7 linked regions of the Homo sapiens genome follow. The protein of the gene in region 6 interacts with the protein of the main gene of each other region in a pairwise test. Each region holds a gene or a part of one and is shown on either strand. Other genes may lie near its edges.

Region 1 (3,500 bases), on a different chromosome or scaffold from region 6:
TTGTGATCCACCCGTCTCGGCCTCTCAAAGTGCTGGGATTACAGGTGTGAATCACCATGCCCGGCTAGAAGAGCTTTATGTTCATGATGCTGAGATGAAGTTGGGGCCAGAAGAAGAGTCAGTTGATAAAAGCTAAAGTATTTTTAGATCCTGATTAAAGAAGAAGGTAATGGGTTGACTTGAGAGAGAATGAGCGTTCTGTTATGGGAATGCTCATATGGGAAATGTTCTGTCTCTTTGTCAAAAACTGCAGGACCACCTGTTGGTGACATTGGAGGAATTCCTGCTTTGTGTGGGAGGGTGAACTAGATGCCTTTAAAAAAAATTTCCCCCCCACAGACTTGTTTTAGATATTTTACTGCTTCAGAGAGGGTCATGTTCACACCATTCTCCCCTTTTGTAATTTTTCACACCTCCCTGGCTCCCCTTTTATAATTTAGAAAGAGGTTTAGAAGTCTGTAACTTTTTGTATTAGATTTACTTTGAGAAATCTTGTACTTAATTTAGTAGGTCACAGAGGGTTGCTGAATGACTGGAAACTTGTGTTTCTTTTCCATTAAGGGCTATTTGCTGACTTCTGAAATATTGATGATTTATTTGACTTTAGAATTTTGCATACTGAGGGGAAAGCATCTTAATGTATCATTTAAAGCAGGAGATACTTTCATACTATACCTGGGTTCTCTTGGCTTTGAAGAGGAGGGTGGTCATGAGATATTGAAAGATTGCATGGGTGGCTTGTAATCCCAGCACTTTGGGAGGCTGAGGCGGGTGGATCATCTGGGGTTAGGAGTTCAAGACCAGCCTGGCCAACACGGGGAAACCACATCTCTACTAAAAATACAAAAATTAGCCAAGTATGGTGGCGCATGCCTGTAATCCCAGCTACTCAGGAGGCAGGAGAATCACTTGAACCCAGGAGGTGGAGGTTGCAGTGAGCCAAGATCGTGCCAGTGCACTCCAGCCTGGGCAACAAAGCGAGACCTTCCCAAAAAAGGAGGACTTCATGGGTAGATATGAGCAATGGTGAGAAGCACCTGGAATATGTCATGGAAGTCCGTGAGATAGTCATGAATGCCATTCTTTCAGCAAATATTCATGGAGTATGCCTACCAGATATGAGGTACTGTTTTAGATGCTGGGTGTAGTCAGAGTCTCTGCCCTCAAGAAATGTGTCACTTATACGATATTTATTATCATTGACTTAATATAGTGACTTAAGGGTAAAGTGCTTTGATGGCAAACTTGAGCTTGAGCAAGCATCAAAACATGGTGGATTTTGTCACTGAGTGGTTTGGCTGTATGGCTAAAGAACCTTGTTTTATTTTATTTTAGTTTTAGTTTTAGTTTTGGAGACAGAGTCTCACTCTATTCCCCAGGCTGGAGTGCAATGGCATGATCTTGGTTCACTGCAACCTCTGCCTCCCGGGTTCAAGCCATTCGCAGGCCTCAGCCTCCCGAGTAACTGGGATTACAGGCACCTGCCACCACACCCAGCTAATTTTTGTCTTTTTAGTAGAGACGGGGTTTCCCCATGTTGGCCAGGCTGGCCTTGAACTCCTGACCTCAGGTGATCCACCTGCCTGGGCCTCCCAAAGTGCTGGGATTACAGGCGTGGGCTACTACGCCTGGCCAAGAACCTTGTTTTAAAAATAGGAAGATTTTTGTCGTCTGGAATTTAGTATCTCAGAGAATAATTCTGTTTGTTTCTCAGTGAGGTTAGTTTGTGCAGTAATATGAAATGTGATCTTGTTTGGTTATTCAGGAGAAGACCTTAAAAATAGAAGTAACCTTAATTGGTAGACATTTCTAATTGGTAGACTTCAGTTTTAATTTTCAGGACACTTGAAATTGACAGCATCAGTGACAAGTTACCTTGGCTCTTGCCCTTAATCCCAGTATTTTAGGAGACCGAGGCAGGAGGATTGGTTGAGCCCCAGGAGTTTGAGACCAGCCAGGGCAACATAGTGAGAGCTCATCTCTACAAGAAAAAATTAGCCAGGTGTGGTGGTGCACGCCTGTGGCCCCAGCTATTCAGGTGGCTTAGGTGGGAGAATTGCTGGAGCCTGGGAGGTTGAGGCTGCAGTGAGCGGAAATTGTGCCACTGGACTCCAGCCTGGGTGACAGAGCTGAGACTCTGTCTCAAAAAAAAAAAAAAATCATAATCCTCATTCATCAAGCATTTATTGATGACTGGTATATACAAGGCACTGCTGTCTATTGTGGCGGATGTGAAGTGTATTTAACACTCCTGTCTTTAAAGAGTTTGGCTTTGTGTGTGTGTGTGTGTGTGTGTGTGTGTGTGTGTGTGTTTGGAACAGGGTCTCACTGTGTCACCTAGGCTGGAGGGCAGTGGCACAATCATAGCTCACTGCAGCTTCAACCTCCTGGGCTCAAGTGATCCTCCCGCCTCAGCCTCCTGAGTAATTGGGACTACAGGCATGTGCCACTGTGCCTGGATAATTTTTAAAAAATTTTTTGTAGGCCAGGCGCGGTGGCTCACGCTTGTAATCCCTGCACTTTGGGAGGCCGAGGCGGGCGGATCACGAGGTCAGGAGTTTGAGACCGTCCTGGCTAACACAGCGACACCCCCTCTCTACTAAAAATACAAAAAAATTTAGCTGGGTGTGGTGGCGGGTGCCTGTAGTCGCAGCTACTCGGAAGGCTGAGGCAGGAGAATACTTGAACCCGGGAGGTGGCGCTTGCAGTGAGCTGAGATCGTGCCACTGCACTCCAGCCTGGGCGACAGAGTGAGACTCTCTCAAAACAAAACAAACAAACAAAAAATACATACATAAATACATTTTTTTCTTTTGTAGAGACTGGGTCTTGCTGTGTTGCCTAGTCTGACCTTGAACTCCTGGGCTCAAGTGATGCTTTTGCCTTGTGCTCCCAAAGTGCTGGGATTACAGATGTGAGCCATTGTTCCCGGCTGATTTTGTATTTATCATTATAATACAAAGTAGAGGATATGTGCTCTGCATGTGGCATAGCAATGTAAGTATCAAGTGGAATTAAGGAGTAAAGGTGAAGTGGAAAAGTATTTCTCTGCCTAGTAGAAGAATATTGCATTGGGTTTCAAATAGATAATTTGCCCTAAAATGTTGTGTGCAGATCATATTTTTTATAAATTTTTAAATTTGTTGCCTTGTATTTCTAATTTCAGAAATGCTTTATTTTTATTTCTGATTGAGCGTAAGATGTCCACTGCTCTTTTAGCATTTTTCTCAACTTTTCAGCTTCTCTGCCAGTTGGTAATTTGTAAATTGAGAAATATTTTGTGTCATCAATTCTATTTTATTTATTTATTTATTTGAGACGGAGTCTCACTCTGTCGCCCAGGCTGGAGTGCAGTGGCTCGATCTCAGCACACTGCAACCTCTGCCTCCTGGGTTCAAGCAGTTCTCTGCCTCAGACTCCAGAGTGGCTGGGACTGCAGGCACATGCCACCACGCCCGGCTAATTTTTGTATTTTTTAGTAGAGATGGGGTTTCACTGTA
Region 2 (3,500 bases), on a different chromosome or scaffold from region 6:
ACTCGTCAAGGCCAGAGAAAGAACCTCCAGAAATCAATAGACTGAACAATTTCTGGAGCTCACACAAGGCTGGGAATAATTTTCAATCTTGCCAACCAGAATGGAAAAATGTCGTAATATGTCAACGTCAGGTAGGGTAATCAGAAGGGTATATTACTTTAGAAAATGGGCTAAGTTAGCCCTAGATTAAAGGCTGCTCTTGAGCCACTCTAACTAGGCTTTATTTAAGCCTCAGAAGGAACAAAATGATGTCATACCATGTTAACTGCATGCCAGAGTTAAATTCAATAGAACTGAAAGAACTACAACAAAATCCAGCAAATACAAAATTCACCAATATGAATTCATCAGTACAAACAATATGAAATTCATCATATTTGGCATCCAGTAAAAAATTACCAACCAGAAGAGACAAATCTCCAGGGCAGCAAAATTTCAAATAATTTACATTAATACACTACCCTCAGGGAGAGGGAGCATAACTATCCCCTCCTTAAGCGTGGGCTGTGCACAATGACTGCCTTCCAAAGTATACAAGTATAGAAGGAGGGAAAAAGAGTACAGTGGAGAAACCTGACAGACACTTCCTCAGCCAGGTGATTAAAGTCAACATCAATAGTCATAAATCATGTTGACGGTATGAACACTTAATGTGATGTGATGACAATGACACTTTAATGCTACTGTCTTCCTCTCCCAATTAATAACCCAAATTTTATGAGGAAAACATCAAACAAATTGCAATAGTGCAGCATCCTTACAAAATATATGACCAGTACTCCTCAAAACTATCTAAGTCATAAAAAATAAGGCAAGCCTGAGAAACTGTCACAGCCAAGGGGCACCTAAAGAAAATGACAACTTAGTGTAATGTGGCACCTTAGATGGAAACCTAAAACAGAAAAATGACATTAGGTAAAAACTAAGAAAATCTAAAGGAACTATGGATTTCAGTTAATAATGTATCAATTTGGTTCATTAGTTGTTAAAAATGTTAAATCTAAGATGTTAATAATAGAGAAAAGTGAGGATGGGGCATATAAAAAACTCTATACTATCTTCTCAGTTTTTCTGTAAAATTAAAAAATCTAAAAGTGTCCTAAAAAATAAAGCCCATTAAAAAGAAAAAGATTACTAGCCATACAAAGCAGCAGGAAAATATGACTCTCAGGAGAACAATCAAACAATAAAATCAGGCCCAGAAATGACAATGATGATAGAATTAGCAGACAAGGATATTAAAATGGATAAATGTCTTCCATTTTTTCAAGAATGTAGAGGAAGGCATGAACATGGTGAGAAGAGATAAGAAAGATATAAAAAGACCCAAATGAAACTTCTAGAAATGAAATGTATATAAAATGAAAATATCTTGAACAATATTAACAGAAGGTTAGACCATGCAGAAGAAAAGATGAGAACTTGAATAACAATAGAAACCATTTAAAATAAAGTGTGAGGTGAAAAAAGGCTAAAAAAGTACTGAATATCGATGACATGAGACAACTTGACAATATCAAGTTGTCTAAAATATGTAAAATTAGACTCCAAGAAGGAGAGGAGAAAAGGGGTTGGTAAAAAAGTATTTGAAGAAATACCAGCTGATATTATTCAAAATTTGATGAAAATTATAAACCCTTAGATCCAAGCAGCTCAATGACGCACAAGCAGAATAAATACAAAGAAAATCACACCAAGACCACGTATAATCAAATTGATGGAAGCAAGTGACAAAAAGCAAGTCCTAAAATTAGCCAGAGATGGCCAGGTGCGGTGGCTCACGCCTGTAATCCCAGTACTTTGGGAGGCCGAGGCGGGCAGATCACGAGGTCAGGTGATCGAGACCATCCTGGCTAACATGGTGAAACCCCATCTCTACTAAAAATGCAAAAAAATTAGCCGGGCGTGGTGGCGGGCACCTGTAGTCCCAGCTATTTGGGAGGCTGAGGCAGGAGAATGGCGTGAACCTGGGAGGCGGAGCTTGCAGTGAGCCGAGATTGCACCACACTCCAGCCTGGGTGACAGAGTGAGACTCCATCTCAAAAAAATAAATAAATAAAAATAAATTGAAAAGGCAAGCCATGGAGTGAGAAAAAATATTTAAGAAACATATATCTGATAAAGGATTTGTATCCTTTACAACTTAATAATACAACAATTTAACAAAAATATAGACAAAAGTTTGAACACAACCAAAAAAATATATGAATGGCAAGGAAGCACCTGAAAGGACGCTCAACAGGATTGCTCATTAGGGATATGCAGCCGGGCACCACGGCTCATGCCTGTAATTTCAACACTTTAGGAGGCTGAGGTGGATGGATCACTTAAGGCCAGGAGTTCAAGATCAGCCTGGCCAACATGGCAAAACCTCATCTCTACTAAAAATACAAAAATTAGCTAGGCATGGCAGTGCGCGCCTGTAATTCCAGCTACTGGGGAGTCTGAGGCGCAAGAATCACTTGAGCTTCGGAGGCAGAGGTTGCAGTGAGTTGAGATGCACCACTGTACTCTAGCCTGGACATCAGAGTGAGACTCTGTCCCACCCTCCCACCAAAACAAGAGATATACAAATTAAAACCACAATAAGATACTACTATACATTCAATAAAATGGTTTAAATTAAAAAGATTGACAATATCAAGTTTTGGAAAGGATATAGAGAAACTGGGATTTTCACTAATTGCAGGATGGATAAAACTACCATGGACTACCCCATGTCCATCAACTGGGAAATGAATAAGTAAACTGAATAAATAATCATGATTATTGATACATGGAACAACATAAGTGCTCAAAAAGCATTATGCGGCCTGGCGCAGTGGCTCATACCTGTAATCCCAGCACTTTGGGAGGCTGAGGCGGGCAGATCACGAGGTCAGGAGATCGAGACCATCCTGGCTAACAGGGTGAAACCCCGTCTCTACTGAAAATATAAAAAAATTAGCCGGGCATGGTGGCAGGCGCCTGTAGTCCCAGCTACTCGGGAGGCTGAGGCAGGAGAATGGCATGAACCCTGGAGGCAGAGCTTGCAGTGAGCAGAGATGGCACCACTGCACTCCAGCCTGGGCAACAGAGCGAGACTCCATCTCAAAAAAAAAAAAAATTATGCTAAGTGAAAAAAACCAGAAGACACAAAACACTACATAATGTATGCTATCACTTAGACAAAAATTTAGAAAAGACACATTTAAAGTGAAATAAAACATGTCAGTGAATGTTAGAGGCTGAGAGTAGAAGGAAGAGATTGATTTCAAAGGGGCATGTAGGAACTTTTTGGAGTGATAAAAATCTTCTATATTTTGATTATGGAGAGGTTTACCTAAGTGTATATATACATCAGAACTCATCAAATTGTGCCCTTAAAATTGGATAATTTTACTCTATGTTAACTATATCTCAGTATAGTTGATTTTTCTTCAATGTCAATTACCTGGAAAAATTTGCGATTTTTCATTAAATCAGGGATATATTTGTGATTTCTCATTAAATCAATAACC
Region 3 (3,500 bases), on a different chromosome or scaffold from region 6:
GCCGGGAGCGTGAGCTGCGTGAGGCTGCACGCCGGGAGCAGCGCTATCAGGAGCAGGGTGGCGAGGCCAGCCCCCAGAGGTGAGCCAGAGGTGGAGGCTGGCCTGGGGGACCCACCCTGAGGCATTGCTGGGCACCTGCTCCATCCCATGGAGGCGAGGAGGACTAAGGGGTGTGGCATGAGAAGCTGTGACTGTGCCTCAGCTGTGCCCCACCCGGCCCTTCCCAGCAGGACGTGGGAGCAGCAGCAAGAAGTGGTTTCAAGGAACCGAAATGAGCAGGTAAGATGGGGGTGCTCTACTTGTTTGGACCTGTCCTGGCCACACGCAGAAGTCCCTGATCTCGGATTGAGGGCCCAGCCCAGACCTGGGCAGAGGCTGCCCTGCAGTCAGCTGGGGCAGGTTGGAATCTGGGCACCTCAAGAGGTGGCAGTAGAGAGGAAAGCCAAAGGCGGAAGCGTCGGGCTTGGACCACACCTGGTCCTGGGGGAGGCCCTGGGAGCCCCTTGGCTTCTGTGTTTTACTTCCTTTTTTAACGTTACTTTTTATTTTTAAATGACTTCTCTCCTGAGAACATGTTTTGCCTCCTGGCCCCACACTCACCTTTGAGGGGCTACTGGGCCGACAGCTGGAGGGGCTGTGATCTGGGGAGAGGTGGTGAAGGTTTTGCCCACTGCAGGGGTCAACATGTGCTTCCCTCCAGGAGTCTGCCGTGCACCCGAGGGAGATTTTCAAGCAGAAGGAGAGGGCCATGTCCACCACCTCCATCTCCAGTCCTCAGCCTGGTGAGCTCTCCCTTTGGGCCTGGCCATGAGGCAGCAGCAGGCTGAGGGGGAGCCTGGGGTCCTATGTGGGCTCCCCCAAGGCTAGTGACAGATATATCGGTGACGGGTGAGTGAGTGAGGAGAAGGGACACCTGGGGCCATTGACCTCATCAGTGACCACACTGGTCACCAGTTTGGCCTCCAAAAGATATTGGGCTGCGCTGTCTACCACGTCACCACATAGCACATGGCCCTGGGGCCTCTGTTCCTGCACTAGCAAGAGCAAGCCCCATGAGACTGCCTCGAGCACACCAGGGTGGAGGGTGCTGTGGGGTGCGTGGGTGTGTGGTGGTGTTTCTGAAGTGATGTATATATTTACCCGGGTTTGCAGGCAAGCTGAGGAGCCCCTTCCTGCAGAAGCAGCTCACCCAACCAGAGACCCACTTTGGCAGAGAGCCAGCTGCTGCCATCTCAAGGCCCAGGGCAGGCAAGGCGCTTGTCACCCCATGGGGACCCTGGGGGACAGCAGTGGAGAAGGGGGATGTGTGGGAGTGAGAACCTGCTGTGTTCCCTGGTGCAGATCTCCCTGCTGAGGAGCCGGCGCCCAGCACTCCTCCATGTCTGGTGCAGGCAGAAGAGGAGGCTGTGTATGAGGAACCTCCAGAGCAGGAGACCTTCTACGAGCAGCCCCCACTGGTGGGTTCCTACACTGGGGCTGGGGCCAGGAAGGGGCTGCATACTCAGGAACACTTATCACGGGCCGCCTGAGTTTTCTGGGGGCATGCAACAGGTTTTAAAGCACATGCATTTTTGGAGCAGCCCTGTGTTATAAATTGTCAGGGCACGCCCCACTCTATAGGAGGTGCTGGGTGGGAAGAGGACCTTGCAGCCTATGGCTGAGGGATTTATGCACTGTCCTGTGGCTTCTGTACTCTGGTAGGGCGGGGACAGCAGCAGCCCAGCCCCCGAGCCTGTAGACTGCTTGCCCTCTGCGTACTCCCAGCTTGACCTGAGCCATGTGGGGCAGAGCAGCGATTGTGTGTAAGGGCTGAGTCTGGGGTAACACCTTTGTCATCCCTGGGCAGGTGCAGCAGCAAGGTGCTGGCTCTGAGCACATTGACCACCACATTCAGGGCCAGGGGCTCAGTGGGCAAGGGCTCTGTGCCCGTGCCCTGTACGACTACCAGGCAGGTAAGGTGCCCTGGCCTGGCTGGCACAGACCACAGGGTCCTGAGGTTAGGAGACAAGAGGGTCTGGGGTTTTATGGGAAGATGGCACCAGGGGGTATCAGGAAGAGAAGACAGGAGGGTGGGCGGTGCGTTTAGGGGTAGAAGCACCTCTGGAGTGGGGGTGACTGTGGCACTAGAGTGTTCTGCACAGCCCAGGCCTCCCTACATGTTCCTCATTAGCTATTTGCTGGCCGCTGATGTGAATCCCAGTTGCCACCCTTGTCACAGAACATGGACTCTGAGCAGGGAGGTGGGCCAGGCCTGGATGCTGGTTCACCAGGCGTCCCTGGGTGGAGGCCTTGGAGAATGGGGTGGAGGCCCCCTACGGAGCAGGCTGGTGTCTACTCTAGCCTTTTTTGGGAATGCTCTGTAGGAGGGTATGCCCTGGGGGTGTGGTCACTGGAGCCGCATTGGGACAGGGTGCAGTGTTGGCCAAGGCTTAGCAGGGTGGCAGGGATATTTCTGAGGAGGAACCAGAGCTGCAGCGAGGTGTGCTGCAGCAGTGTGGGGCTGCCGTGGGCTGCCCGAGCAGGTGGGATGTGGGAGGGAGCCCCTGATATGCATCTGGGCTCATCCTCTTTGCAGCCGACGACACAGAGATCTCCTTTGACCCCGAGAACCTCATCACGGGCATCGAGGTGATCGACGAAGGCTGGTGGCGTGGCTATGGGCCGGATGGCCATTTTGGCATGTTCCCTGCCAACTACGTGGAGCTCATTGAGTGAGGCTGAGGGCACATCTTGCCCTTCCCCTCTCAGACATGGCTTCCTTATTGCTGGAAGAGGAGGCCTGGGAGTTGACATTCAGCACTCTTCCAGGAATAGGACCCCCAGTGAGGATGAGGCCTCAGGGCTCCCTCCGGCTTGGCAGACTCAGCCTGTCACCCCAAATGCAGCAATGGCCTGGTGATTCCCACACATCCTTCCTGCATCCCCCGACCCTCCCAGACAGCTTGGCTCTTGCCCCTGACAGGATACTGAGCCAAGCCCTGCCTGTGGCCAAGCCCTGAGTGGCCACTGCCAAGCTGCGGGGAAGGGTCCTGAGCAGGGGCATCTGGGAGGCTCTGGCTGCCTTCTGCATTTATTTGCCTTTTTTCTTTTTCTCTTGCTTCTAAGGGGTGGTGGCCACCACTGTTTAGAATGACCCTTGGGAACAGTGAACGTAGAGAATTGTTTTTAGCAGAGTTTGTGACCAAAGTCAGAGTGGATCATGGTGGTTTGGCAGCAGGGAATTTGTCTTGTTGGAGCCTGCTCTGTGCTCCCCACTCCATTTCTCTGTCCCTCTGCCTGGGCTATGGGAAGTGGGGATGCAGATGGCCAAGCTCCCACCCTGGGTATTCAAAAACGGCAGACACAACATGTTCCTCCACGCGGCTCACTCGATGCCTGCAGGCCCCAGTGTGTGCCTCAACTGATTCTGACTTCAGGAAAAGTAACACAGAGTGGCCTTGGCCTGTTGTCTTCCCCTATTTTCTGTCCCAGCTCATCCGTGTCTCTGAAGAACAAATATG
Region 4 (3,500 bases), on a different chromosome or scaffold from region 6:
TATTTAAAAAGCTGATTTCTGGACCTCCACCCCAGAAAAGTCCAGTTGAGTTGGACAGAGGTAAGGCCCAGAAATCCTTGTTTGTAATCAGCATCCAATATTGAATAAAATTGCTTTAGGGGGTGGAAGCCATTGAATATTGAGTATGTGAATGACAGGAGCAAATTTGTCCCTCCGTATTTGAACACGCTGACTCCAGTGGATAATGAAGTGGAAAGGAGTGGGATAAGATGCAGTTGTAGTAATCCAGGAAAGGGCCATGGATGAACAGTGTGGTAGACTAAAGATAAGCCCGGGAGACAGATAAAAGAAACACACAGGAAGGCCAGGCGTAGTGGCTCACACCTGTAATCCCAGCACTTTGGGAGGCTGAGACGGGCGGATCACGAGGTCAGGAGATCAAGACCATCCTGGCCAACACGGTGAAACCCCGTCTCTACTAAAAATTTAAAAAATTGCCAGGCACAGTGGCTCACGCCTGTAATCCCAGCACTTTGGGAGGCCGAGGCGGGCGGATCACGAAGTCAGGAGATCGAGACCACGGTGAAACCCCATCTCTACTAAATATACAAAAAAATTAGCCAGGCATGGTGGTGGGCACCTGTAGTCCCAGCTACTCGGGAGGCTGAGGCAGGAGAATTGCCTGAACTCAGGAGGTGGAGCTTGCAGTGAGCCCAAATCGCACCACTGCACTCCAGTCTGGGCGAAAGAGTGAGACTCCATCTACAAAAAAAAAAAAAAAAAAAAAATACAAAAAGTACAAAAAATTAGACCGGGCGAGGTGGCGGGTGCCTGTAGTCCCGGCTACTCGGGAGGCTGAGGCAGGAGAATGGCGTGAACTTGGGAGGCAGAGCTTGCAGTGAGCCGAGATCGCGCCACTGCTCCAGCCTGGGGGACAGAACGAGACTCTATCTCAAAAAAAAAAAAGAAAAAAAAACAAAAAACACACGGGAGATGGAATTGGTTAAATCACGTGACTACTGGAAGGTGAGAGATAAAAGCACAATAAATATTTCCAAATTTCTGATTATGCTACTGGATAGATGGTGAAGCTGTTCTTTCAGTGAGGAAAGGAACATAGGAAAGGAATTGTGTTTGGCTGTTTTTGTAAGACATGAGTGTGATGTGTGGGTGGCTGTAGTATATAAAATAAGTAGGATGAAGCTATGCAGTTGTGTATTGAGCTACTGGATGAAGAGAATGGAGAGAGGCTATTGAACAGGAAGAATATTAAGAGATAGGGATTACCTCCAAATTCCTAACACTGCTTTAACCCTAGAGCCTTCAAATCTCTTTTCTTGGATTTCCCCATCTGTGAAAACGGAGGTAGAAACAGCCATGGTAGCATAAAATAATCAGCTATATCAGTGGCAGCCTTAAGATTGGAAAACCAGGAAAGGACATTCTTCTTTTCCCTTTCTGCAGAACTGGTCTTCAGGGTCTCCTGTTTCTACTCTCTCATTTTTACTGCACCCTTTTCACTCTCTCCCTTCCCGTCGTTCCAGGGTGGAGAGTTCTGAGGAGCCTGTATATGAGAGCCTTGAAGAGTTTCACGTCTTTGTCCTTGCTCATGTGCTTAGGAGGCCCATAGTCGTCGTGGCAGACACCATGCTGAGGGACTCCGGAGGGGAAGGTGAGTCAGCCAGTCAGTCCTCACTCCATGCTGAGCACCCCCTTTTGCAAAGCCTTAGGCTAAGCATTGGAAGGAAGGCAGGAAAGGGGATATATAGACCCTTGGGGAAAAAGCAAGTTATCAATTAGAATAGTGCAAAATTCTCAAGAGATTCTGAGTAAAGCAGTTGGGATTAGTTGACAGGGCTTCTTAGGAAAGAATTATTAAACATGTTGGAATGAAAGCAGGGAGGGACTCAGTTGGCAGAGTGGGATGTAGGGATTGTCCACTAGGCAGAAACACAGCCTTCATAATAATCTTCATGGCTTCCTGCAGCATTTGCCCCTATTCCCTTTGGAGGAATCTATCTGCCTTTGGAGGTCCCAGCCAGCCAGTGTCACCGCTCCCCTCTGGTGCTCGCCTATGATCAGGCCCACTTTTCTGCACTCGTGTCCATGGAGCAGAAGGAGAATACCAAGGAACAAGGTGCTGAATGACATGTCTTTTGGTCTGCATTATTTTCACTTGAAAAAATTGAATGAGATCTAATGTAGGAGGAAAGAATTAAGTGACATGCAAGCCCAGACAGCACATGTTGATACTGTTTTATTAAGCCAGAAGTTACGCCAGAGTTTTCAAATTAAAAAAAAAAGGGTTGGGAGAAAAGCAAGACCTATATACCCTCTTCTGGAGTAAAGGCTTATGATTAAGGTGTAAGAGCTTCTAAATGATGCTTTTCTAATTTGTCTTAAATTATGACTGAATTCTCTGAATATACATTAACTGGAAAGAACATCATGAGAGTTAGTTGACTGACTGGTGGGGACTCAGGGAGATTTGTGGCCTAAAACATATGCTGCGTGGTAGCGGGAAAACTAGCCAATTAGTTTTAATACCGGGGTAATTCACGTGTAAGAATTGAGAAGTGACTACAATTAAAGACCTTAGTATGATTTTAGTGAAATAAGTCTGTGTTCAGTTACCTTTCTCTCTTAAGGAGATTCCTTGATGATATGTTTCTTCCTCTCCAGCTGTGATCCCACTTACAGATTCAGAGTATAAGCTGCTGCCCTTGCACTTTGCTGTGGACCCTGGAAAGGGCTGGGAGTGGGGCAAAGATGATAGTGACAATGTCCGATTGGCCAGGTAAGCCAGGCCTAGTCTTTTCATCTATTTTGTGCTGGGATTTCTTCCACATGTGGCATCCATCTCCCAGGGATTTTTCCTCAGCTCAGGCAAGACAGTCACAAGCTAAGATGAGTTTTGGGAAGATGGGGAGGTAGAGGAGAGGTTGGGCACCAGGACTCTTTCATGGTGCAGCTGCTTTTTCTCCCTGTGAAAGAGATGGGAATCCTAGCATCTCAACTTGTTCTTTTCTTACAATAGGAAAAGTGTTCATACACTGATTCATCTCTAAAACATTGATCAGAAAATCAGGATAATCAGGCCGGGCATGGTGGCTTATGCCTGTAATTCCAGCACTTTGGGAGGCTGAGGTGGGTGGATCACGAGGTCAGGAGTTCGAGACAAGCCTGGCCAATATGGTGAAACCTCGTCTCTACTAAAAATACAAAAATTAGCCAGGCGTGGTGGTGCGTGCCTGTAATCCCAACTACTAGGGAGGCTGAGGCAGGAGAATCGCTTGAACCCAGGAGGCAGGGGTTGCAGTGAGCCGACATCGTGCCACTGCACTACAGCCTAGGCAACAGAGTGAGAGTCTGTCTCAAAAAAAAAAAAAGAAAGAAAGAAAATCAGGATAATCAAATCACATGTCTTAGCCCAAGTGAGAGGAGTTTTAAAGAGTTGATCAAGGCTGGGTGCGGTGGCTTATGCCTGTAATCCCAGCATGTTGGGAGAAACCACCATCAGAGTGAACAGGCAACCGAGG
Region 5 (3,500 bases), on a different chromosome or scaffold from region 6:
GAATCGTGTTTCTTTCAGGGGAAGTAGGAGGAAGCGGTACCTTTGTAATGGGGCAGGTGAAGTTGGTCTGACTTTGGGTCACAATTATATCTTCATCCACTCCTTCTGTTCCGTCAGCTTCTCTGTCAGCTTGAAGACCACCTAGAGGAAAATGGAGAGTTGATAAGCCTCTCTGGTCTAACGTCAAAGAAAAGGAAGGAATGGAAGGAAGGGAGGTGAAGAGTTTCTGGGGGAGCATTTGCTGTTGGCCCCCATGTAAGGACTGGATGCATAGAAACTCTTCTGCTTTTCAGAGAACACTACGGGGTACCTCATTCTGACTATTTTTGATAAGGAAACTGAGGCTCAGAGCAGTTAAAAAGAATCTTTTTTAAAGTTATAGAGAAAGTGACCAAGGGTGTGGCTTCAGAGTCAGAGAACCGACCTGGTGATCTCTTTCTTGTCCAGTGGTGAGACGCTGGGCTAGCAAGGTGCCCTTTTTTAAAGCCTCTGCTTTACAGCCTTGTGGCAAAGATTAAAAGAGATGAAGAATGTGGTATGCTTTGCACAGCTCATGGTACAAAGCAATAATCAATAAACAGTCATTACAATTAGGTAGTGCAGGGCTTCTCAAACTTTTTAGTTATAGGTATGAACTCTTTTAAGCTTTTTCTATGTGGGTTATATTTATCAATATTTAACATATTAGACATTAAGATTAAGGAATTTAAAATTCATTAAAAAATAACAATAAGGCCGGTTGCGGTGGCTCACGCCTTTAATCCCAGCACTTTGGGAGGCTGAGGTGGGCGGATCACGAGGTCAAGAGATCGAGACCATCCTGGCCAACATGGTGAAACCCCATCTCTACCAAAACTACAAAAATTAGCTGGGCATGGTGGCATGTGCCTGTAGTCCCAGCTATTTGGGAGGCTAGGGCAGGAGAATCGCTTGAACCCAGAAGTTGGAGGTTGCAGTGGGCCAAGATCCTGCCATTTCACTCCAGTCTGGTGACAGAGCGAGACTCTGTCTCAAAAAAAAAAAAAAAAAAAAACCAAAAAATTAAAAGTAACAGTAATAATCCCACTACGTGTTACCATAAACATTTTAAAAGTTAAAATTATATTTCCAGAACACCCCCCCCCATACACACAGACATACATAATGAGAAGAATGGCATTGTTTTCCATTTTTATAAATATCTTGAATGTCTGGCTTCATAGCAGCCAGTTGGATTTGGATATCTGCGTATGCATTCAATCTGTCACAATATCACATATCCTGTAGTCTCTGGGAAAATTCACTCATGAAAAGAATGAGAGTGAAACAGGCAGATGAGATCATACTATTATTATAAAGACAGTTTTGACCTTATGGACACTCTGAAAGACCCTTGGAGCACCCTAGAGATCCCTGGCCTGCACTTTGAGAACTGCTGAGTGATAGTGACAGGACTGGCTTTGAACAGAGCATGAGCTGCTTCTGAAACTGATGTTCTTTGAGTTACATCCCATTGGCCCCCAACTGAAAAACCAAACCAAACCAAAAACAGATGATAGACAACATTTGAATGGGATGATGGGAGTATCTCACATGAAAGCCATTCTCTCTGAAGAAAAGATACTTGTAATTTTGCACAGAAGTTAAAGATCAATAGCTTTTTTTTTTTTTTTTTTTTTTTGAGATGGAGTCTCGCTCTGTCACCCAGGCTGGAGTGCAATGGCGCGATCTTGGCTCACTGCAACCTCCGCCTCCCAGGTTCAAGTGATTCTCCTGCCTCAGCCTCCTGAGTAGCTGGGAGTATAGGTGCACGACACCATGCCTGGCTAATTTTTGTATTTTTAGTAGAGATGGGGTTTCACCATATTGGCCAGGCTGGTCTTGAACTCCTGACCTCAGGTGATCTGCCCGCCTTGGCCTCCCAGAGTGCTGGGATTACAGGCATGAGCCACGGGGCCCAGCCAAAAGATCAGTAGCTTTCTAAACATGTTGATGGTGTAGTCCTTTCTCCTTCCTTCTCCTTTCCCTTTCCCTTCTCTACTCTTTTCTCCCTTCCCTTCCTTCTTTAATTTTGGCAAAATAATACAGACATAAAAATGGCTTTCCTCAATGTGTGAGAGGAAGCCCTTGTTTCTGGTTCAGATGGTGTGGCATACCTTTCGGTTCCATAGAACTGATGACTGTGGGCCATCACCTAGGCCAGATGAGGTGTTTGTTTGCAAAGGCACTACAGGTTGAGTATCCCTTATCCGAAATGCTTGGGACCAGAAGTGTTTCGGATTTCGGACTTTGAAATATTTGCATAAGCATGATGAAATATCTTGGGGGATGGGACCCAAGACTAAACATGAATTTCATTTATGTTTCATATAAAGCTTACACACATAGCCTGAAGCTAATTTTATGCAGCATTTTTAACACTCATGTGTACTTGTTGCATGAGGCCAGATGTGGAATTTTCTGCTTGTGGCGTCATGTAGGTGCTCAAAAAGTTTTGGATTTTGGAGCATTGTGGGTTTTGGATTTTGGGATTAGGGATGCTCAAGCTGTACTGAGGGGCAGGGAAAGGGCTGCAGAGCTCTTGTTCAAGGTAACCTGGTGAATTAATTGCAACACAGGGATTCTGCCTCCAATTACTTTGTTTTTCTTAGAGAGTCACCTTCTTGGAGTAGACTGGTATATTTGTATGCCAGCTTGCTGTCCCCTAAACCAGCTTTTATTCTTTGAAGAAGGCAGTGAAGATCTCAGGGCTTGGGAATAACCAGTCAGAGCATTTTTAACCACTGGGCATTAAGGTGCAGTGCCTCGGGGCTTCCAGCTTTTCAGAGAGCTAAACAAACGTCTGAGACCTTAAAAACCATTGGTTGGCTTCAAAACAGAATAACAATAGTACTGAAATTACTAAATGTTAAAGGTCTATGCAAATGTGAAGTTAACTTCATTAATTGTTGATCCGGTAATCGAAAATACATAATTTGGAAGTAATATGTAGGGCTGGATTTATTTCTTCATAAACTTCATAAAAATTTCCCAGTATGGTAAGATAATTGCTGAAACTAATAGTCAATTACAAATTAAATCAGTTACTGGTAGCCAACCTATTTCCAAAGCAAAATTATACAAATATTTTTTCAAAATTTTGACAGCAAGGTTGGGTGCGGTGGCTCACGCCTGTAATCCCAGCACTTTGGGAGGCTGAGGTGGGCAGATCACCTGAGGTCAGGAGTTCGAGACCAGCCTAACCAACATGGTGAAACCCCTTCTCTACTAAAAATACAAAAATTAGCTGGGCGTGGTGGTGGGCGCCTATAACCTGAGCTACTCAGGAAGCTGAGGCAGGAGAATTGCTTGAACCTGGGAGGTGGAGATTGCAGTGAGCAGAGATCATGCCATTGCACTCCAGCCTGAGTGACAGAGCAAGACTCCGTCTCAAAAAAAAACAACAAATTGACAGCAATAAAATTATATATATATATATTTTTTATTTTTTAGTTTTTGAGACGGAGTCTTGCCCTTGTCGC
Region 6 (3,500 bases):
CCATCTCTACAAAAAATACAAAAAGTAGCAAGGTGTGGTGGCGCTTGCTTGTGGCCCCAGCTACTTGGGAGGCTGAAGTGGGAGGATCACTTGAGCCCAGGATGTCGGGGCTATAGTGAGCTATGATTGCGTCACTACACTCCAGCCTGGGTAACAGAGCCAGACTCTGTCTCAAAAATAAATAAGTAAATAAAAGAGAAGAAAAGAAAAAGAAAAGTAAAAAGAGCTAAATGCAATCTGGTATCCTGGATTGGAACCTAGAATAAAAAACTGGGGAAATCTGGCTAAAGTCTATAGTTTAGTTAATGGTACTGAAGCAATGTTAATTTCTTAGTTTTGACAAATGTACCTGGTTATGCTAAGATGCTAAGGAGAAGCTGAGTGAATGGTATATAGGAACTCTTTGTACTATCTTTACAATTTTTCTGTAAACTTAAAAATTATTCTAAAATAAAAAGTTCAACCAAGCTCAAAAAAAAGTTCTATCTTAAGAGTCAAAATTCAAAAGTTTAACAATATCCAGTTGGCAAGGCTCTGGGTAAACAGGCATTTAAGATCCCTGATGACAGTAATTTGGGAGCTGTTCCAGAGTACAGTTGACTGTGAGGTAGCAGTCCTTTAAATAATAATTATTCTACATGAATTGAGTACTTACTACTCTGTGCCAGTCACTGTTCTAAGCAATTTCTATAACTTGTATAATTATAGAACCCCTTTAATCCTTGCATATGATAGTTCTGTTACTATCCCTGTCTCATTCACAAGGAAACCAAGGCACAGAGTGGTTAAGGAACTTGCACAGCTAGAAATAGCTGACCTGGAATTCAAACACAGGTAGTCTGACTCCTGACTCCAAAACCAGTATTTTCTTTTTTTATTTTATTTATTATTATTATTTTTGAGACGGAGTCTCACTGTTGTCGCCCAGGCTGGAGTGCAATGGCACTATCTCAGCTCACTGCAACCTCCGCCTCCCGGGTTCAAGTGATTCTCCTCCCTTAGGAGGAGAGCTAGGATTAGAGGCACCCGCCACCACGCCTGGCTAATATTTTGTATTTTTAGTAGAGACAGTGTTTCACCATGTTAGCCAGGCTGGTCTCGAACTCCTGACCTCAGGTGATCCGCCTACCTCGGCCTCTCAAAGTGCTGGGATTACAGGGGTGAGCCACCATGCCTGGCCCAGAACCAGTATTTTCAACTACTGACTCATTCTTCGGCCTGTGACCAGCAGTTCCTTGTCTAGGAACTTGCCCTAGTGCTATGCTGTACTTAGCACAAGTGCACCAAGAGGGACTGTCTGCAACTGGAAAAGGTGGAACATCCTAATGTCCATCAATCAGGATTTGCTTAAATTCTTACATTCATAAAATAAAATACTATACAGCTGTTATAAAGGGTCGTGTTGAGATTTATTATAGAAAGATATTCCCGACCATGTTGAGTGGAAAAAAGACCACACAACAGCATGAATAGTTTGGATCCAGTTACACAAAATAGAAATGGCCGGGAGCGTTGGCTCAGGTCTGTAATCCCAGCACTTTGGGAGGCTGAGGTGGGCAGATCACATGAGCCCAGGAGTTTGAGACCAGCCTGGGCAACATGGCAAAACCTCGTCTCTACAAAAAATACAAAAGTTAGCTGGGCGTGGTGGCGTACATCTGTAGTCCCAGCCACTTAGGAGGCTGAGGCAAGAGATCGCTTGAGCCCGGTAGGCAGAGGTTGCAGTGAGCTGTGATTGTGCCATTGTACTGCAGCCTGGGTGACAGAGCAAGACCCTATCTCAAAATAAAATAATAAGATGGAAATGGAAAAGTAACTAGGCACAGAAAGCTGTGGCTGGACAAAGATGTGTTCTCTCATGAGGAGGAGAGGCTGATTTTTTAACTGGGTATTGTCATTTTTGTAATTAAAACATATTTTAAAAGTAATACTGGTTTTTTAAACCAGTGAAATTGCATGGACTTTTATTTTCTTTTTATATTTTGAATACTTTTTTTTCTTACAATAAACATGTATTACTTCATAATCAGAAAAAAAATCGATAATGTAGTAGTTTTTCTTTGGCAGTGGTGAAAATCGACATCCCCTTTTTGTTGTTTTACTGAAAATACTTGGGGCACAACGTAAGTGTGATTGAGCTTTCTCCCAGAGCTCAGCCAAGAGAGTTCCCTAGCTGAAGCTAAGCCTGAATTCAGTTGTGAAAATCACAAGAAAGAAATCATAAATAAAGTCATTAACTATAACCCACACCCCCAACCTCCCCACATACACACCATTTCTGTAGTATTTCCCCAAGTATTTTCTAAGCTGTTTTCACATCCATTTTATCTGTGGACTCCCAGAAATCCTACAAAGTCGACCATTCTGCTCTTCTTCCCACTTTACAGACTAGGACACTGAGACTCAGAGAGACCTCATGTATGAGCGTGACACAGATATGTACGGAGTTGATCGCATGCTCTTAGTGCAGGAAAGCAAAGGAAGTACACGAGCATCCACTGGAGACGTGAGAAAGCTGAGGCCCCCCTCCAAAGGGGTGCTTTGCTCAAGGTCCCATAGCAGTGGAGTGGGGAAGACCAAGTCTTCCACCTCCCTGTCCTGACCCCATGCCCAGGCAGACAGTGCATCTGGTGCTCACCTTGTAGAGCTTGGCCAGCTTGCGGTTGGCCGCATCCTCCTTGGCGGTGTCCTCGGTACCTGCAGGCAGAGCCGGCTTGGGGCCCAGCACCTGTAGGAGATAGAGAGATGGAGAGGAAGGGTGGCTGTGAGGGAGGGGCCAGGCTCCTGAGATAGCTCCCAGGCAGGCAAGGATCACAAGGACATCCACTGTGACCCTCCCCATGGAGTCTGACCTCCTCCAGACACATCCTGCATCTGCTCACATGTCCAGATCTGTCCATCAGAGGTCCCTTCCACCTTGTCTCCCTGACTCAGAAACTCCAGGAGAACACTCCTGCTCCTCTGCCTCCAGACAGCGCTTCAGATATTTCGCCTACCGGCTAATTGTGATAACTATAGCTACTGAACACCTTCTACCGCCTACCTTTAAAAGATGTCACTGCATCCTCGCAGCCAGGCCAGGAGGCACAGATTATCACTCTCATTTTACAGAAGAGGAATCTGAGGTCCAGAAAGATGAAGTCACCTACTCACACAGCTATTAGGTGGCTAAGCCAGAATCTGAACCTCCATCCCTGTGGCTTCAGAGCCTATTTTCACTCCCACTGTCCCTCCCAAGCCATGGTTGGTGTCCAGGTCCCTTCCCATAATAATAATCACCATTCTGCTCTCTCCAAAAGCTGGAATTGGATGCCCCCAGAGAAGCAGGAACCAAGTGACATGGAGCAGAGCTCATGGTCTTCTCCTTTTCCTAGTGAATCTTGCCTCTATTGATACGTCCTCAACGCACAATGGCTGGCAATCCCACCATGTGACTAAATGGGCCAAAAACTACCAGAAATAGTCAGAAGAGAAAAGAGGGGATTGGGGCTCAGTGGTCT
Region 7 (2,938 bases), on a different chromosome or scaffold from region 6:
CAAACTCCTGAGCTCAAGCCATCTGCCTGCCTCGGCCTCCCAAAGTGCTGGGATTATAGGTGTGAGTTACCATGCCCAGTCTCCTATTTTTCTTATAAAGAGCTTGCATTATATGAAAAGCAAGGCAGGGCCAGGTGCGGTGGCTCACGCCTGTAATCCCAACACTTTGGGAGGCCGAGGCGGACCATGCTTCAGGAGTTTGAGACCAGCCTGGCCAACATGGTGAAACCCTGTCTCTACTAAAAATACAAGAATTAGCTGGGCGTGGTGGCAGGTGCCTGTAGTATCAGCTACTCGGGAGGCTGAGGCAGGAGTATTGCTTGAACCTGGAAGGCAGAGGTTCCAGTGAGCCAAGATGGTGCCACTGCACTCCAGCCTGGGTGACAAGAGCAAAACTCTGTCTCAAAAAAAAAAATAAATAAAAGAAAGGCAAGGCAGAATGAGACCTGAGACCTGCTTTTTCGGTTTTGTCCTTCTGATTAGGAACTCTAAGTTGGTACCTGGGCTTGTTTCATGAAAACATGAGAAGGTCCCAGCCACAACAGAATAGCAGCTCACTCTTCTGATGCCTCATCGGCCAGTTTGAAGGGAGAATGATGGGGGAAGCGTGGGAGGTTCATGTTCGGTATTTCTACCTGGAATTTTCTAAGTGGCTCAAAGTGGCTAAATAAATAGGAGTAGTAACTTACTGCTCTGTAGTCCAAAAACATTTCTTTAAAAGCCAGAAAATCTGTGAAGGTGAGCAGCATGTCGAATATGTCACCAGCCACTTCATCCTTATGGTGCCTGCAAACGGAACAGATGGCTGTTTCGTGAATGAATGATGAGACAGTCCTCAAGATTGCTTTCGTTTTTCTTTCCACCACCCCAGCCCCACCCCCCGCATTATTTTTGTTTTGTTTTTTTAGAGACTGGGTCTTGCTCTGTCACCCAGGCAGGAGTGCAGGGGTGCAATTATAGCTCACTGTAGCCTTGAACTGCTGGGCTCAAGGGATTCTCCAGCCTCAGCCTCCTGAGTAGCTAGGCCCACAGGTATGCAACACCACACCTGACTAATTTATTTTTTGTAGGGTCGGGGCCTCACTATGTCACCCAGGCTGGTCTTGAACTCCTGGGCTCAAGTGATCCTCCTCCCTTGGCCTCCCAAAGCACTGAGAACACAAGCGTGAGCCAATGCCTGATCTTTTCAAGATTTCATTAAAAGGTTTGAGGGCTTCCTCCATAGGACCTAACCACCAACGGCATGCACAGGAAAACAAACAAGGAGCGTCTTTTGGTCAGCCTAGGGAAGGAAGAAAGTGAGAAAACAAAACAAAACACAAAAATCAGTCAAGCTCAACTCACTGTAATGTTGTGGTGAAGGCTGCCATGTTGAACTCAGGAATCCGCTGCAGCAGCTGTTCTTCAATGTATTTTTCTACCAAAGAAATCTGCAACAGTGGAAAGGATTTTGGTGAGACCATACTTTGGGAAAACAAGACTTCTTTTCAGAAAGCCTGCCCAGCCCTTTCTAAACATTTCCTGAGGTCTGTGTGCCACAATCTACACTGAGTGCCAAGGATACCAAAGAGGACCAAAACACAGCTCCTGTCCTGGAGAAGTACTCAGCCTGGTGTGGAAGAGAAGCCTTAGCTGATAATGGTGCTGTAACAGGGTGGATGCTCTGACACAGGTGGAGACAGTGAGTAGCACGGTACCCACACCCACAACCCAGTGCAGGATGCAGTAAGTGGGGGCTTTGCCTCCTGGGTAGAGGGCATCTGTGTAACAGAACATACGGACATGGAGGCAGTCACAGGTTCCTTCTGGGCAGGTTTGTTTATGCCATGCTTCTGTGTTAAGAAAATAAAGTCCTGGAGGCCAAAATGGATTCTTAGATGACAGAATCCCAGGGGGCTGTTAAGAGGCCTCAGGGTAAAGTGTAGAGACCCAAGGGTGACGAGCTGAGGTTCCTGGGTTCCAGTCTTGGTTTTTCCACCAAATAGTTAGTGATCTTGGTCTCAGTTTTCACTTTTACTTAATAGTCATGCATATATGACTGGATTATATAGAAGAAAGAAAGAGTATGTGAAAGCAGAAAGGTTTGTCAAAAGCATGCAAATGCAAGGTATGAAGAACTCATGTACTGTGATTAAAAGCAGGATTATGATAAGCCAAACGTCTTTTATTTATTATCTTTATTATTATCATTTTTTTTTTAGAGACAGAGATCTTGCTGTGTTGCCCAGGCTGGTCTCAAACTCCTAAGCTCAAGTGATTCTTCCACCTCAACCTCCCAAATAGCTGGCACTACAGGTGTGCTACCAAGCCCAGGTCAAACTTCTTTTAAATAAGAAGCTGATGAGTTAATCAAATATTTGCCTGAAAGCCTTTTGGAAAATAGCCCCAAAGGCTGTGCAGAGGAAAATGAACTTAAACCAGATGCTAATGAGGATTCCTGGAAGTGTACTGGTGGCATATTTTAAAAGGCAGCAAATTTCAATGTCTTTTGAATCTAAATTTAAATTTTTAAAAACTCTGACCTCCTGGTAGGAGACATAGAAATCTACTTACGTATTCATTAAAAATAGGTGTGTAGATGAGTTTATTCTCTTCTGTGTCTTCAAACTCCAGGTAGTACTTGTCCATGAAATTTCTCTGTAATAACTGGAACTCGTCATCTGAACCACAGTGGGGAAAATTTATTCTTTTTAATGGAGATTACCAACCATTATGATTTATAAGTAGGCAGGATCTATGTCAGCAGTACTGCTTTCTCAATGATCAGTCTCTGGAAGGAAAGCTGATGTTTTAAGGGGGTATTAAATGGGACCCTGATGTGGAAATAGCCCAATCCTCCTGTTTTCTTTTTCTTTCTTTCTTTTTTTTTTTTTTTTTTTTTTTTTGAGCTGGAGTTTCTCTTGTTGCCCAGGCTGGAGTGCAATGGTGCGATCTCGGT

The links.
Region 1: the proteins of GSN (region 6) and WDR20 interact in binary tests that used the Homo sapiens proteins (3 or more experiments, as listed by UniProt).
Region 2: the proteins of GSN (region 6) and TRIM69 interact in binary tests that used the Homo sapiens proteins (3 or more experiments, as listed by UniProt).
Region 3: the proteins of GSN (region 6) and DBNL interact in binary tests that used the Homo sapiens proteins (3 or more experiments, as listed by UniProt).
Region 4: the proteins of GSN (region 6) and OTUD7B interact in binary tests that used the Homo sapiens proteins (3 or more experiments, as listed by UniProt).
Region 5: the proteins of GSN (region 6) and NSMCE2 interact in binary tests that used the Homo sapiens proteins (3 or more experiments, as listed by UniProt).
Region 7: the proteins of GSN (region 6) and ARL2BP interact in binary tests that used the Homo sapiens proteins (3 or more experiments, as listed by UniProt).

Annotation. Positions count from the first base shown.
Region 1 is NC_000014.9:102,146,397-102,149,896, forward strand, and holds part of WDR20 (WD repeat-containing protein 20), read left to right. Parts: intron 1-3,500. UniProt on the Homo sapiens protein: Regulator of deubiquitinating complexes. Activates deubiquitinating activity of complexes containing USP12. Anchors at the base of the ubiquitin-contacting loop of USP12 and remotely modulates the catalytic center of the enzyme.
Region 2 is NC_000015.10:44,760,528-44,764,027, reverse strand, and holds part of TRIM69 (E3 ubiquitin-protein ligase TRIM69), read right to left. Parts: intron 1-3,500.
Region 3 is NC_000007.14:44,058,202-44,061,701, forward strand, and holds part of DBNL (drebrin-like protein), read left to right. Parts: coding exon 1-79; intron 80-227; coding exon of another isoform or gene 228-230; coding exon 231-279; intron 280-676; coding exon of another isoform or gene 677-700; coding exon 701-782; intron 783-1,152; coding exon 1,153-1,248; intron 1,249-1,341; coding exon 1,342-1,457; intron 1,458-1,846; coding exon 1,847-1,952; intron 1,953-2,575; coding exon 2,576-2,715; 3' UTR 2,716-3,500. UniProt on the Homo sapiens protein: Adapter protein that binds F-actin and DNM1, and thereby plays a role in receptor-mediated endocytosis.
Region 4 is NC_000001.11:149,948,227-149,951,726, reverse strand, and holds part of OTUD7B (OTU domain-containing protein 7B), read left to right. Parts: intron 1-1,505; coding exon 1,506-1,633; intron 1,634-1,948; coding exon 1,949-2,098; intron 2,099-2,643; coding exon 2,644-2,758; intron 2,759-3,500. UniProt on the Homo sapiens protein: Negative regulator of the non-canonical NF-kappa-B pathway that acts by mediating deubiquitination of TRAF3, an inhibitor of the NF-kappa-B pathway, thereby acting as a negative regulator of B-cell responses.
Region 5 is NC_000008.11:125,353,860-125,357,359, reverse strand, and holds part of NSMCE2 (E3 SUMO-protein ligase NSE2), read right to left. Parts: intron 142-3,500; coding exon 41-141; intron 1-40. UniProt on the Homo sapiens protein: E3 SUMO-protein ligase component of the SMC5-SMC6 complex, a complex involved in DNA double-strand break repair by homologous recombination. Is not be required for the stability of the complex.
Region 6 is NC_000009.12:121,313,162-121,316,661, reverse strand, and holds part of GSN (gelsolin), read right to left. Parts: intron 2,729-3,500; coding exon 2,639-2,728; intron 1-2,638. UniProt on the Homo sapiens protein: Calcium-regulated, actin-modulating protein that binds to the plus (or barbed) ends of actin monomers or filaments, preventing monomer exchange (end-blocking or capping).
Region 7 is NC_000016.10:57,248,259-57,251,196, reverse strand, and holds part of ARL2BP (ADP-ribosylation factor-like protein 2-binding protein), read right to left. Parts: exon of another isoform or gene 2,661-2,938; coding exon 2,554-2,660; exon of another isoform or gene 1,431-2,553; coding exon 1,345-1,430; exon of another isoform or gene 1,226-1,344; intron 787-1,225; coding exon 690-786; intron 1-689. UniProt on the Homo sapiens protein: Together with ARL2, plays a role in the nuclear translocation, retention and transcriptional activity of STAT3. May play a role as an effector of ARL2.